4 linked regions of the Homo sapiens genome follow. The protein of the gene in region 4 purifies or fractionates together with the protein of the main gene of each other region. This does not show direct contact. Each region holds a gene or a part of one and is shown on either strand. Other genes may lie near its edges.

Region 1 (3,592 bases), on a different chromosome or scaffold from region 4:
TATATTAGACCCTGAAGTTTTTCTCTGATATGTCAGTTCTATTTATTATATGATGATACTACATATGAAAGCACTGTTTTCTGTTCTGCCGATTAACCTAGTCTTTCCAGCAAACTTTCTCCATACGACGATCACAATTTAAAATTTTCTTTCCTATTATTATAAATGTCACAGTCCCAATGATGTCTTTCAGACTTTGAACTAAAAGCAGCAAAAAAAATCTAACATCAGATTATATGCCCCCGTTTTTGTTTCAGAACAGAGTATCACTCTGTCCAAGGCTTCTCAACCACCGCAGTCATAGGATGTTTCTTTTGTATTAATATGGAACTGTTTCCTGGTAATTTATTTTACTTAATACATCTTTCTCTTGATTTTTTTTTAACAGATATGGAGATTAATCACCAACTTCTTATTTTTTGGGCCAGTTGGATTCAATTTTTTATTTAACATGATTTTTCTGTATCCTTTATTAAATGGGGTCAGCATCAAAACTTTTTCTTAGGAAGTAAAAAATTAAGTTGAAACTTTTCATCCTGTTACTTGTTTTTGGTACCATCTTAGCTATGATTTCTGGGTCAGTGGTACATAAAGTAGTTGCTTAGGTAGTAATGTTTTGAAAATGTCTGTAGGTCACTTTGTTCAAATGGGAGGTTTTAACCATAAAAAGATAGCACTTCTGCTCTTTTGTTACTTACAAATCTGATCAAGGGAGGGGAGAATTGATTTAACTGAGGCATACCTCCACAGTAACCAACAGGTTCGAAGCCGTAAAACAACCTGAATGCAATGGTAATTCAGCAGAATTTGGGCATAAGTTTTGGAATGGGTTCATGAGGAGTGGGAACCTGAGATCTCCTTGGGTCCTGGTTGCTGGAACTACTGGCTGAAAGACAGTGGTTGTGTCTGCTGGGCTTGTCAAGTTCCGGTTTGTTGAAAGGAAAACCCCAGCTCTGATCCAATGGTAATTGGGGCCACAGAGCAGGGCATTCCTCTTCCACCCCTGCCCTCTGTATTAAGAGGGAGTTACAGTTCAACTCATCTGCAGCTGCATTCCTTCCTGAGGATGGCAGGAATCCATTTTATATCCTATGTAGGATATCATTCTGATAAGTTTCCATTAAAGTTTTTTCTCATCGTAATTCATCTTTATTGACTGAGGTGCTCAACCTGCCAGGCTGGAAAAGTAGTTGAGCACACAAGGCTTCTTGCTGCGGATTTCTTCCAAGTTAGGATGTGGGAAAGCAAAGATGGTGCATATTAAGGTGTGGCTGAGCACAGGAAAGACAATACAAATTTTTAAAGGTTTAATAGGGGACTGGAGGGCCGGGTGTGGTGGCTCACACCTGTAATCCCAGCACTTGGGGAGGCCAAGGCAGTGGATCACGAGGTCAGGAGTTTGAGACCAGCCTGGCCAACATGGTGAAACCTGCTCTCTACTAAAAATACAAAAAATAGCCTGGCATGGTGGCACACAACTGTAATCCCAGCTACTCAGGAGAATGAGGCAGGAGAATCGCTTGAATCTGAGAGGCGGAGCTTGCAGTGAGCCGATATGGCACCATTGCACTCCATCCTAGGTGACAGAGCGAGACTCTGTCTCAAAAGAAAAAAAAAAAAGAATAGGGGACTGAAAGCATGTCTGTGTGTCATCTGGATTAGTTCCCAGCCAGGGACAGTTTGTAAAAAATGATGCTGGTCTTGACCTTTTCTCAAATGCTTGGTAAAAAAGTAATCACATTACCACTCAAACATTCTTATACAAATGAAGACTTGACTAATTACAAATAATATGGAATCCAAGTGTACTTACAAGATAACATTAAATTTTTACTTTGTTCATATTCGTGTGCTTAATATTTTCTTAACTTGGAACTTAAGATATCGTTACTGTCGAATGCTAGAAGAAGGCTCTTTCCGAGGTCGGACAGCAGACTTTGTATTTATGTTCCTTTTTGGTGGATTCTTAATGACCGTATCCTTCAACAAACAACACGGGAAAATGTTGAAGAACACCCTGGCTCTTCCTAAAGCTTGTCATCTGTCTCCCACAGTTCTCTAGATCTTAGCTTCAGGGCACTATCATTTATTTTACAGCACATTTTCTGTGACAAGTTTCCAAACCTAGCAGTCGGACAGGATGAGCAAGTCAAAGGAACTTTTAACCCAGGTGGGTTACTGTTAAGCAACTCAGTTATATCATTACTGCTTGGCGTACTTCACTTTTAAACTAAGTTGGTAAGACATTTACTTGGTGGCTACCAAAACCAATAAATTATTTTTTCAGAAAAAGAATTTTCATCTATACAATAGACTTAGATATGGTACGGTCTGACAAGATGGTTTTGTTCCAGCTAGCTTTATTCATCTCTGTAAAGGTGCTAATCGTGAGCAAGCTTTAATATAATTATTGACTGAAGAATTAACACATTTTCCAAAGAGGCAAGAACTTCACGAAAGCAGAGTATTTGTTTGAAGTAGCTGTAAATCTCGATAATTTAGCCTAAGCAGATTTTTGCCTGATTGCTCTGGGTAATTATTTTCTGGGTGTTTCTCCTTCTATTCTAAAGATGTAACAACTTGACTTTTCCAATTCAAACTTCTGTTAGAACACAATCTTTAGTTCTCCTGCTCAGTCTTTCCTATTAAACTTTTAATGTTGATATTTTCCTTAATGCCATCTGCTAGCTTTTTGGTCTGTTTGTGAGCTTAGTTTTCTTGGGCCAGGCCTTTACAATAATGCTCGTCTATGTGTGGAGCCGAAGGAACCCCTATGTCCGCATGAACTTCTTCGGCCTTCTCAACTTCCAGGCCCCCTTTCTGCCCTGGGTGCTCATGGGATTTTCCTTGTTGTTGGGGAACTCAATCATTGTGGACCTTTTGGGTAAGGCTCTTCTCACTATTTTTTAAATTATTTTACCTGTAAAAGTATTTTGTTACTATTTTTCATGTTTATTCTGTTTGGCCTTCACGTATTACCTATTGTAAAATACCACAATATTAGTTCATTAATTTTTAATAATTATGTTGACATTCATCCTAAATATAGGCAATTTGTGTTGGTAGGTCTACCTGCAATCTAAATTTTAATTCTCTCCCTCATCCTTTATTTCTGCTTGACTCTAGGTATTGCAGTTGGACACATATATTTTTTCTTGGAAGATGTATTTCCCAATCAACCTGGTGGAATAAGAATTCTGAAAACACCATCTATTTTGTGAGTATTTAACACCAGGTTACATACTCTTACAGGCAAACCAGGACAGGGGCATGATCTGTGTTTTCTTTGGCTCCCCTAGCTCCTAGTACACATAGCTCAGGTCAGTAACCATTTGCAGATTGAGCATTCTGGCTACAGTTGAAGAGCACTTGGACTGGGTAGGAGCAGACAGTGCCAGGGTTGTGGCAAGACCAACGTCAACAGGCTCAAGATATCTTGGGAGTAACCTGGTAATTGTTAGAGATGACCACTAGAACTTCTATTCTGGTAGGAGCCTGCTGGTTTTATGAAAGCTGCTGTCCACGTTTAGTGAAGTAAGGTAGCAAAATGGGCAAAACTGATGAAAGTTTCTGATGGTGGACTTTGTGGCCT
Region 2 (3,110 bases), on a different chromosome or scaffold from region 4:
CTGTTTCTATGCATTTGTTGGTTTCGACTGTATTGCTACCACTGGTAACACAGTCATTCCATTCTGTTTGGGGCTTGGGCACAGTGTGTGCCCAGGCTGTATGCAGACTGGGGGTGGTAGAGGAGTGGGCCTGCTTCCCTAATTTAGAACCTTACGCCCTTCCTTCAGGAGAAGAAGCCCAGAATCCCCAGCGTTCCATCCCGATGGGCATTGTGATCTCACTGTCTGTCTGCTTTTTGGCGTATTTTGCTGTCTCTTCTGCACTCACCCTGATGATGCCTTACTACCAGCTTCAGCCTGAGAGCCCTTTGCCTGAGGCATTTCTCTACATTGGATGGGCTCCTGCCCGCTATGTTGTGGCTGTTGGCTCCCTCTGTGCTCTTTCTACCAGGTCAGTATCAAATGTTTGTTTTCTTCTGCTGTCAGAGTCTCAGGTTATAGCATTCAGTACCAGAGAATACCCCTTAAAAGGGCTGTGAGGGGAAAGTGGAGACTCTTTAAACATACAGTCTTGGGAAGAGAGATCCCAGTCAACTCATGCCACCCTGGGCATTCTCCTCTCCAGCCTCCTGGGCTCCATGTTCCCCATGCCTCGGGTGATCTACGCGATGGCAGAGGATGGCCTCCTGTTCCGTGTACTTGCTCGGATCCACACCGGCACACGCACCCCAATCATAGCCACCGTGGTCTCTGGCATTATTGCAGGTAACAGACCCTCTTTCCCCTTCCCTTAGTTGTTTCGCCAACTTCTTTAACTTTGCCACTCCCTTCTCTCATTTCTTGTTTCCTGCCTATTAATTTTAGCATTCATGGCATTCCTCTTCAAACTCACTGATCTTGTGGACCTCATGTCAATTGGGACCCTGCTTGCTTACTCCCTGGTGTCGATTTGTGTTCTCATCCTCAGGTGAGACTCTTCCTCTGCATACTGTGATTTGGATTTTTATTCTTGGATGAGGAATGATGGAGATCTGCTCCTCTTTCCTCCTTCGCCTTCATTATTCCAACTTTCTTTGAGGAATCTGGGTATCTCACCCTGCCAAAAAGAACTTCCCTTAATGGTGATGAGGAAGGTTAAGCTGCCTGGGAGAAGATGATAAAGTGAGTAAAGGTTGTTCTTAATACTGCCATCTTACTTTTGCCTCAGGTATCAACCTGATCAGGAGACAAAGACTGGGGAAGAAGTGGAGTTGCAGGAGGAGGCAATAACTACTGAATCAGAGAAGTTGACCCTATGGGGACTATTTTTCCCACTCAACTCCATCCCCACTCCACTCTCTGGCCAAATTGTCTATGTTTGTTCCTCATTGCTTGGTGAGCAGTGGAATTTTTCTGGGGTGGCTCTGAGATCAGCGTGATTGGGTCGAAGTGTGTGGCATTTGGTGGCTGAGGAAGAACTAGAGAGAGAGCGACTCTCCTTGGAACAGGGTTTCTAATGTCTTAGCATGTTGGTCTTAAGAGTTGGTTTTGATGTCTCTCAACTTGACCTTTGAAGCTGTCCTGCTGACTGCTCTTTGCCTGGTGCTGGCCCAGTGGTCAGTTCCATTGCTTTCTGGAGACCTGCTGTGGACTGCAGTGGTTGTGCTGCTCCTGCTGCTCATTATTGGGATCATTGTGGTCATCTGGAGACAGCCACAGAGTTCCACTCCCCTTCACTTTAAGGTAAATGAACTCTGTCTTTTTTCCTTGCCAGCCCATCTTGGGAGAATAGGCTCCAGATATCTTGAGGTCTAATAAAGTTCATAGATATTCTTTAATTGAACATGAAAGGGAAGATATAGGAGGTACCTAGGCCAAAGACTTCTTCTCTGACCCTCTTTAGTTCCTTTCCAGTTCCATTTACCCAAACTGCATATTCTTGGAGTCTCATGAGGTATGCTAAATGAGCAGCTACTGAAATGCAGAGGACAAGTAAGAGTTGGACTCACCCTTTTCTGGCCTGCATAGGATAGGGATCTCTTTCTAGGTCAACCTGTGGTATGTACAAAGAAGATTTTACTTTGTTTTCAGGTGCCTGCTTTGCCTCTCCTCCCACTAATGAGCATCTTTGTGAATATTTACCTTATGATGCAGATGACAGCTGGTACCTGGGCCCGATTTGGGGTCTGGATGCTGATTGGTAGGTATCCACTTGGGAAGAGTAGGCTTCTTTGGTGTCCTAGCCCAGCTCCTTTCCCTCTTGGTCTCAAGTAGGAAACCTATGAAGCCTTTACACCCCCACCTCACAGCTACCTTTCCCCACTAGGCTTTGCTATCTACTTCGGCTATGGGATCCAGCACAGCCTGGAAGAGATTAAGAGTAACCAACCCTCACGCAAGTCTAGAGCCAAAACTGTAGACCTTGATCCCGGCACTCTCTATGTCCACTCAGTTTGACATCGTCACACCTAAATGCTGTCTGGTCCCCTGCACAATAATGGAGAGTACTCCTGACCCCAGTGACAGCTAGCCCTCCCCTGTGATGGTGGTGGTGGATACTAATACAGTTCTGTACGATGTGAAGGATGTGTCTTTGCTATTTCTTGTCTATTTTAACCCGTCTGCTTCTAAATGATGTCTAGCTGCTTACCAACTTTAAAAAATGATATTAAAAGAAAGTAGAAAAATAAACTGTGTCCTGTTTTTTGCTTGCTAAAGATGTAGAGCCTGACTTTTAAGAGTGAAGAGCCTCAGAGAAGTGTCCTTTGTGTTTTCTTCAGTTACCACAAAAGCATCTGCTGTGCCTGTGGGTGCTTCTTGTTGAATCAGGGTTTGAGGAGGGTGGTGTAAGTAGGTAGCCATCCAGTCCAGTCACACTTAAAGGAATGGTCTTGAGATATGTTTTCCCCTCATTACACTTAAGGTTAGGTTCTGGATAAGTAGACAGCAACACTTGTCTCTGGGATTTGGGGTGGACTCTGATAGCAACACTGACATTGGTTAGGGCCTACACTGAAACTATTGGCTTCTGTTCCACCTCTTCTAGTTGGACCAGTCCCACACTCCTGTAACTGCCTGAGCATCAGAAATTTTGGCTGCGGTGTTTGGCACTGCTGGGAGGAGGGGTGGATAGTCAGGGGGTTTGGTAAGGGACCACATATATTAATATATGGATACTGTTTGCTGCAGAA
Region 3 (3,592 bases), on a different chromosome or scaffold from region 4:
TTCAGAATTCAGGGTCTGCTCACTGTGCAGCAAGTCACAGTAGTACGTGCTTCAAGACATGCCAGGATGGGAGTTGCTTTGTAGCCCAGGGGACTTGGATAAGAGGCTAGGCCTGTGTGCTCTCCAGGTATTCCTGGAAGTGAATTTTCTGTGCTTCTCTCTGGCACAAGAGTGGGCTGCTAGAGGCCCACTGGGTGCGGTCTGTCCATGGAGAGGCCTGATGCTCACCACTGGTCCTGATAACACTCTCAGCATGGTGCTGCAGTGCCTGAGGATGGGGTCCACTGCCCCAGAGGGCTGAATCTCTGCTCACACTTTCAGGATCACAGTGGGAGGTCAGAAGACAGCACTTATGGGGGTTTTGAGGTCTGGATCTTGTACCCAGCCCTTGAACTTGAGGTATGGAGATGGGGGTCTTTGGAACATAGAGGTTTGAGTTCTCAGGGTTCCTTCAGCACTGACACCTGCCCCAGTCAGCCTGCTGTCTCCCAGCTTAGCTGGCCCCATCCCAGCCTAGCCTGTCCATGCTGCCTCCTGTGTCCTACACCGGCTCCAAAGCCACTTCCTTCTGGGTGCTTCTGTGGCTACCCAGACTGGCTGTTATTCCTGCACCACCATAGCCTCATGCCCATACATTGCCCAAGCTGCCTCACCTTCCCACTTGATATTTTTTTGTTATTTGTGTACCAGGTCCATATTTTCTTGAGGATTGTGTATCATTTTATGTCCTCCCAAATCGCCATTTATTGAACAGGTCAGTACTGAATAAATGTTTGGAAATAAATGTTGAGTCTAGTTGAGTTGAATTCTCTTGTGCCTAGGAGCAAACATGCCAAACGCCCATCACTGGACAGTGGGAAGGTGGAGGCTGTTTGAGTGTGGCAGGGGTGTGTTGGAAGAATGTGGAGCTGACTGTGAGGGGCCCTGGACTTTGTGAATGCACTGATGTGTCCTAGGAGTCAGAGTCCATTTGTGGGATAGATGTAAACTGGTCTTTGTATACTGACGCAGAAATGCCCATCAAATCTGTGATCAGAGACCATTCTATGTGCTCCTGAGTCATAACACAAGTCAGAAATCCAGGAACATTTTGGAAGTGCATAAAGGTACAGAAGTTGTTCCAGGCTCTGGGAAATCTCTTGTTTACAGCAAGCAGATAAGAGCTGTGGTTTTCCTCCTAATTGTTCTGTGAACTGTCATCCAGTAATGTGTAACTTTGTCAAATTAAAGAATTGGAAGCAGGCCTGTGGCAGGTTCTTTCCTGTTTGTCCCAAGAACTTTAGTTGTCCATAAGCCATTGTCTCTGTAATTCAATTCTGTTGAATTCATTTCAGCATGCACTTGTGGTGAGCCTGCTTTGTACCAGAGGTGCGCTGTGCTAGGTATGAGAGATTCAGAGATAAACTGCAGAATGTCACCAAAGGAGAGAAATCTGACAGGTCCAAACCAGTGTGTCAAGCACATCAGAAGAAATGTGGGTGATGTTTGGGCACAGAACTGAGGAGGGGGTGAATCAACACCTCTTGGGGGTAGAAGTGGGAGGCTGGAAGTAGGGGGCTGGCAGAACATCAGGGAAGCCTTCTTAAAGAGGCCTCTGAGTTGTGAAGCACAGAATGAAATAGGATATTCCAGGCAGAGGGGTAGAGATGTGTGCACGTCTGTAATGTTCTGTTCTCAGGGTCTTGGCGGGGGGCCCAGCTCTCCAAGCCCAGACCGCCCTCGTGACTTTACTTTATTCTGGTGGCTGATGGCCAACCAAGCACGAAGTCCTGAATTCTTTGCTCTAACACAATGCTTCTCAAACTTTAACGTGCTTATGAATTGCCTGCCAGTCTGACTAAAAGGCAGTATAAGATTCCTTAGTTCTAAGGTGGGGGTTGAGATTCTTCGTTTCTAGATGGTGCCATTTATTGGTTACATTTTGAATAGTGGGTAGTAAGAAACTCTTCTTTCTCAGCACAGGTCCCTCATGTCAGACTGTTGTACCCAAGCGAGTTAGTGAGAACGCCACACTTTGAGACGAATTAAGAGTCCTTTATTAAGCGGGTGGCCAAAGAGACGGCTAACGCTCAAAATTCTCTCGGCCCCGAGGAAAGGGCTTGATTAACTTTTATACCTGGTTTAGGAAGGGGAGGGGGACTCAGATGCAATAATTCTACAGAAGTAAAAACATGCAAGAATCAAAAGAAGCAAAATGGTTACAGAGAGATAAACAATTTAAAAGACAAATGGTTACAAAAAGAGCAACGGTACCAGGTGCAAGGCTCTAAATCTTTCATTATAATTAGATATAGGGAGTATGTCGGACCCGAACTCAAGGCTTTATGTTGTTATCTCTTTAAGAAAAATCCTGGGAACTTCATACATTGTTGGTGCTAGTACCTTATCAGTTAATTGGGCTCCTTTGAAACGCTGAGGATCTGCTTACACAGGTCAACTCCTTGCGGAAGGGGGTTGGGTAAGGAGCCCTTAGTGTCTTGTAAATTAAGGGGTCAATTGGAGTTTGTCTGGCTTTCCCAGCTAGAAAGAGTCTTATTTACAGGAGAAGCAAGGCTAGGTGATTAAAGAGACAAGCAGGATAAAATTCAAAGTAGCGAGTTAGAGTAAAAACAAGGTTAGGCATTTCAAGACAACCATAGCAGCACCCCCTTCCCCAACACACACAGGCACTGATTTTCCCCTTCTTTTTCCGCTTCCCAAGTATATAGATGCCAAATTCCTCTTTCTTAGATGTTGTTTTTTGTTTGGTTACCCCCGTTACCTGGAACTTCTTTTCTTCTTCTTCATCTTTTTTTTTTTGTTTTTTTTTTTTTAAAGACAAGGTCTTGCTCTGTCACCTAGGCTGGAGTTCTGGGCTATAGTGATCCTACCACCTCAGCCTCCCAAATAGCTGAGACCACAGGCGTGTGCCACCATGCCCAGCTAATTTTTTATAGACAGGGTCCTCCCATGTTGTCCAGGCTTGTTTCAAACTCCTGGGCTCAAGCAACCCTCTTGCCTCAGCCTCCCAAAATGCTAGGATTACAGGCAGGAGCCACCGCACTCAACCAAGGTTCTCTCTTATTCCTTTTTTTTTTTTTTAATTATTTTAGATTCATGGGGTACATATGCATATTTGTTACATGGGTATATTGTGTAGTGATGGAGACTGGGCTTTTAGTGTACCCGTTATCCAATAGTGACCCTTATACCTGATAGGTAATTTTCACCCCACCCTCCCCTCTTCAGCTGTCCCCAGTGTCTGTTATTTCTGTCTTCATGTCCATGTATACTATTGATTAGCTCCCACTTGCAAATGAGAACACGTGGTATTTGATTTTCTGTTTCTGGGTTAGTTCACTTAGGATGATGGTCTCCAGCTCCATGTTGCTGCAAAGGACATGATTTCGTTCTTTTTTTATGGCTGCCTCTTTTGTTTCTTAAATCTGAATTTCCATGTGGCTTCAATGCTAGTCTGGCCTACCCTTTCCTTCCCAAAGTCACCACCAACTCACTCCCACCCCCACCTCATGCAGTGCACCCCTCACAGCCCCCACCCTTGGCAGTGACATTTGGATTTCCAGGGCCTTTCCTGATCCTTTAGAGACATCCT
Region 4 (3,955 bases):
TTTTTTCTTGGTGGGGGCAAGGGGAGAGAGTAAGGAAGGGCAACAGAGACCAGAACATCTATATCAAGGGATGATTAAGTATTGTGAAAAAGGTCAAAACAGAGTAATGGGAATGAGAGGGATAGTCAAAGAAGACCTCTTTGATAAGGTATCTTTAAAGCACAGACTTGAAGGAAGTGACACAACAGTCTTGCAGATGTCTGAGAGAAGAACATTTTGGGCAGAGGGAATTTCCTTTGCAAAGGCCCTGGGTGGGAGTGTGCCTAGCACATTGAAGGAACCACAGGAAGAGCAGTGAGGTGGAGTAAGCAAGGGGAGAATGATAGGGGATGAGCAAAGGGTCAGCGGTAGAGAGGAGTGGATAGATTAGGTCCTATAGGCCCTTGTAACAGCTTTAAATATTACTCTGAGTGTGATGAGAGCCACAGGAATGGGAGAGGTGTTAAATAGAGAAGGAACATATTTAGAGTTCAGTTTTAAGTTTAATGACTCACTCTAGTCACTGCGTTGAGAATCTAACATGGGGGTGGTGGTGGTTGGTGTGGAGCAAGAGTGACCTACTAGTAGGCCATTGCAATAATCTGAGAAAGAAATCATGGTGGCTTGCACCAGAGTAACAGCATTGGAAGAGGTGAAAAGTGGTTGGATTCTAGATATATTCTGAATGTATGTAATGTGTTAGAAAGAACACAAGGGACATGCCATGATTTTTGGCCTGAGTAAACACAAGAATGAAGTTGTTATTAGCTGGGGTTGGGAAGACTTTAGGAAGAGCAAGTTTTAGGGAAAAAACAGGAGTTTGGTTTTACACATGTTAATTTTTGAATGTCTGTTTGGTGTCCAAGTGGAGATGTCAAGTAAGCAGTGTAGAGTGGGGCTGGGGAGTGATCTGATCTGCTTATATACATTGGGAGTTGTTGGTGTAGAGATGAGATCACCAAGGGAGTGAGTGTTGACAGTGATGAGGTCAAGGAGTCCTGGGTCACTCAAATATACAGAGGTCTTTCAAAGAAAACTGAGTAAAAGTGGGCGACGAAGTAGGAAAACTGAAAGAGACTCCAGAAGAAAAGATAAATATATGTCAAGAGGAATAGAATGATTGATTCCGTCAAATGCTGCTTGTGGTTAAGATAGAGACTGAGAGCCAGCCACTGGATTTGACAATGAGGAAGTCATTCAAAGTGCCGGGAAAAACATCTCGGTTGAAATGGTTTTAGAGCAAATGAGAGGGGAGAAAATAAGAGATGGTATTTGTAGACTTGACTCTTTGGGGGAGTTTTGTTATAAAGGAAACTGAATAAGAGGTAACTGTATGGAGAGTGAGATGAAAAGAAGGGAAAGTATTTTTTTTTTGCTATGGAGAATATTAAGGCATATTTGCAAGATGATGTAAATGATGCAGTAGTCAGGGAAAGATTGGTGTTGCGGGAGGTGGGGGCATTTCCTGAAACTGTGTCTCTGAATGAGTAAGCAGGGATGGATCCAGCACACAGACAAGGGCTGATATTGGATAAAGGTGAGGACAGTTCATGGCTATAATGGAGGAAAGACAGAGGAGAGGGCACACCTGCAGGGAGTGGTTGGAGATGGGGCTGAGAACAGGTGGAAGTTTTCCATTAACTGCTTCTATTTTATCAATGAAATAGGAAGCAGGGTCAACAGAGTGAAGGCAGGAGTGGAATTGTTGAAAGTTTGAGAAGAGGGGAGAAGGTATAAAATTGTCGTTTGGGAAAATGAGAGAGTGAAAGGACTAGGGCAAACTGAGGGAACACTGAGTAGCCCTTGGGGCTCACTTAGAGCTTAAAGTGAGACCAATCACTGTATATGTTATCTTGTTTTTGGTTTAGAGTGCAGGGTTAGTTGGATTGATTTTTGTTTTCCAGTGATCCCAGTGGGAACAGATGGGAAATGGATTTGAGGATATATGCAAGGCAGTATATAGATGCTTGGTCTTGGAATCTGCTGAGGAGGAATGAAGCATAGTAAAAAGATGACATAAGCAGTGGATTGTATATGCTGGCAGGGTTGCTAGAGTAATGGTACTAGAGTAAGGGAGATGAAAGGATAAGAGATGATGATTTGGTAGCTGGGGTGTTTGAGGTAGATAGTAGGAGGGGTACTATTACTGAGAAGCAGTGGAAAACTGAGATGGAGTGGATGACAAGGTCATTGGAGGAGTCCAGAAGAAAGGTGAAAATAGGAGTGAAACAGTCACCTACATGATTACTGACATCACAATGAACCATGACAGATCCTGGGAATTACAGTAAACCAGACGCTAATGGATATCTTTAGGAAGGGACATAATGGCCTAGGATTCTGCCTAGGGGCTTTTAGGGGGAAGGAAGAACAGTGGCCTGTAACATTATAAATGTAAAATGTTGACTATAAGTTCTGAAAATTCTATTTAATATGTATAGAACGTAGGAGATGCAACTTAAAATAGTTCATGGTGGGGGTTGGGAATTTTGTAATTAGCTAAATATGAGCTAGTGGTATGGTGAAATTACTAAAATATCTTATGTAATTTCAGATAGTATTAATAGAAAGTCTCAGGTGCACATTATACGAGGTAATAGCTCCCCTAGATTCTGTTCTAGGCAGGCCAAATTTGGATTCTCATACTAAAGGGTAGGTGCCATGTTTTGAGAGACATTGACGAGCTATAATACGGTGAGAGCAGGGCAATTGGGAGGCTTTTGGAAAACATGCCATTTGAGAGATAGTTAAAGAAATTAAGAATTTTTATCCAAAAGAAAAGAATGAAGATCTGAATGTTAAATACTAGAAGAACTTTCATGAAGCAAAGGAAGAAGACTTGACCCAGCTGATTTCACAGAGCAAAATTAGGACTAGTGATGTGGAGAAGTAGATTTCTTCTGAATGAAAGAAAATGTTCTAATAATTAGAACTGATCAGAAAAGACAGATTCTCTCCCAGTTAGTGATGTTCAAGCAAAAGCCAGGTTGCCATTTTAATGTGGGGAAAGCAGAAAGGAAGTCATTAGTTACACTAAGATGTTTATATCTTCCTAAAAGACAACAGTGCCCCTAACTTGACATTGTTATTGTTACATTATTACTTGTATTAGTCCATTTTCACACTGCTGATTAAGAGATACCCGAGACTGGGCAATTTACAAAGAAAAAGGTTTAATCAACTTACAGTTCCATATGGTTGGAGAGGCCTCACAATCATGGCAGAAGGCAAGGAGGAGCGAGTCATGTCTTACATGGATGGCAGCAGGCAAAGAGAGAGATTGGGCAGGGAAAATCCCCCTTATAATACCATCAGATCTTGTGAGACTTATTCACTATCATGAGAACAGCATGGAAAAGACCTGCCCCATGATTCAATTACCTCCCGCTGGGTTCCTCACATAACACGTGGGAATTCAAGATGAAATTTGGGTGGGGACACAGCCAAACCATATCATTCTGCCCCTGGCCCCTCCCAAATCTCATGTCCTTACATTTCAAAACCAATCATGCCTTCCCAACAGTCCCTCAAAGTCTTAACTCGTTGCAGTATTAACTCAAAATTTTATAGTCCAGTGTCTCATCTGAGACAAGGAAGTCTCTTCTGCCTATAAGCCTGTAAAATCAAAAGCAACTTAGTTACTTCCTAGATACAGTGGGGGTACAGGCATTGGGTAAATATAGCCATTCTAAATGGGAGAAATTGGCCAAAACAAAGGGGCTACAGTCCCCATGCATGTCTGAAATCCAGCAGGGCAGTCAAATCTTAAAGCTTCAAAATGATCTCCTTTGACTCCGTGTCTCACTGATGCAGGAGGTGGGTTCCCATGATCTTGGGCAACCAGGTCACACTGATGCAGGAGGTGGGTTCCCATGGTCTTGGGAAGCTCTGCCCCTGTGGCTTTTCAGGGTACAGCCTCCCTCCTGGCTCTTTTCATAGGCTGGCATTGAGTGCCTGTGGCTTTTCCAGGCACATG

The links. The genes of interacting proteins can lie anywhere in the genome.
Region 1: the proteins of RTN1 (region 4) and DERL2 purify together in Homo sapiens (affinity purification with mass spectrometry; 2 studies listed by BioGRID and IntAct, with this or other methods). This does not show direct contact.
Region 2: the proteins of RTN1 (region 4) and SLC7A3 purify together in Homo sapiens (affinity purification with mass spectrometry; 2 studies listed by BioGRID and IntAct, with this or other methods). This does not show direct contact.
Region 3: the proteins of RTN1 (region 4) and PRXL2A purify together in Homo sapiens (affinity purification with mass spectrometry; 2 studies listed by BioGRID and IntAct, with this or other methods). This does not show direct contact.

The regions. Positions count from the first base shown.
Region 1 is NC_000017.11:5,479,679-5,483,270, reverse strand, and holds part of DERL2 (derlin-2), read left to right. Parts: intron 1-388; coding exon 389-462; intron 463-1,881; coding exon 1,882-1,975; intron 1,976-2,128; coding exon of another isoform or gene 2,129-2,170; intron 2,171-2,688; coding exon 2,689-2,884; intron 2,885-3,126; coding exon 3,127-3,217; intron 3,218-3,592.
Region 2 is NC_000023.11:70,925,079-70,928,188, reverse strand, and holds the end of SLC7A3 (cationic amino acid transporter 3), read left to right. Parts: coding exon 1-44; intron 45-168; coding exon 169-391; intron 392-565; coding exon 566-705; intron 706-804; coding exon 805-907; intron 908-1,147; coding exon 1,148-1,314; intron 1,315-1,495; coding exon 1,496-1,662; intron 1,663-2,010; coding exon 2,011-2,119; intron 2,120-2,245; coding exon 2,246-2,376; 3' UTR 2,377-2,610; downstream 2,611-3,110. UniProt on the Homo sapiens protein: Uniporter that mediates the uptake of cationic L-amino acids such as L-arginine, L-lysine and L-ornithine. The transport is sodium ions- and pH-independent, moderately trans-stimulated and is mediated by passive diffusion.
Region 3 is NC_000010.11:80,414,959-80,418,550, forward strand, and holds part of PRXL2A (peroxiredoxin-like 2A isoform 1 precursor), read left to right. Parts: intron 1-3,592. UniProt on the Homo sapiens protein: Involved in redox regulation of the cell. Acts as an antioxidant. Inhibits TNFSF11-induced NFKB1 and JUN activation and osteoclast differentiation. May affect bone resorption and help to maintain bone mass.
Region 4 is NC_000014.9:59,860,604-59,864,558, reverse strand, and holds part of RTN1 (reticulon-1), read left to right. Parts: intron 1-3,955. UniProt on the Homo sapiens protein: Inhibits amyloid precursor protein processing, probably by blocking BACE1 activity.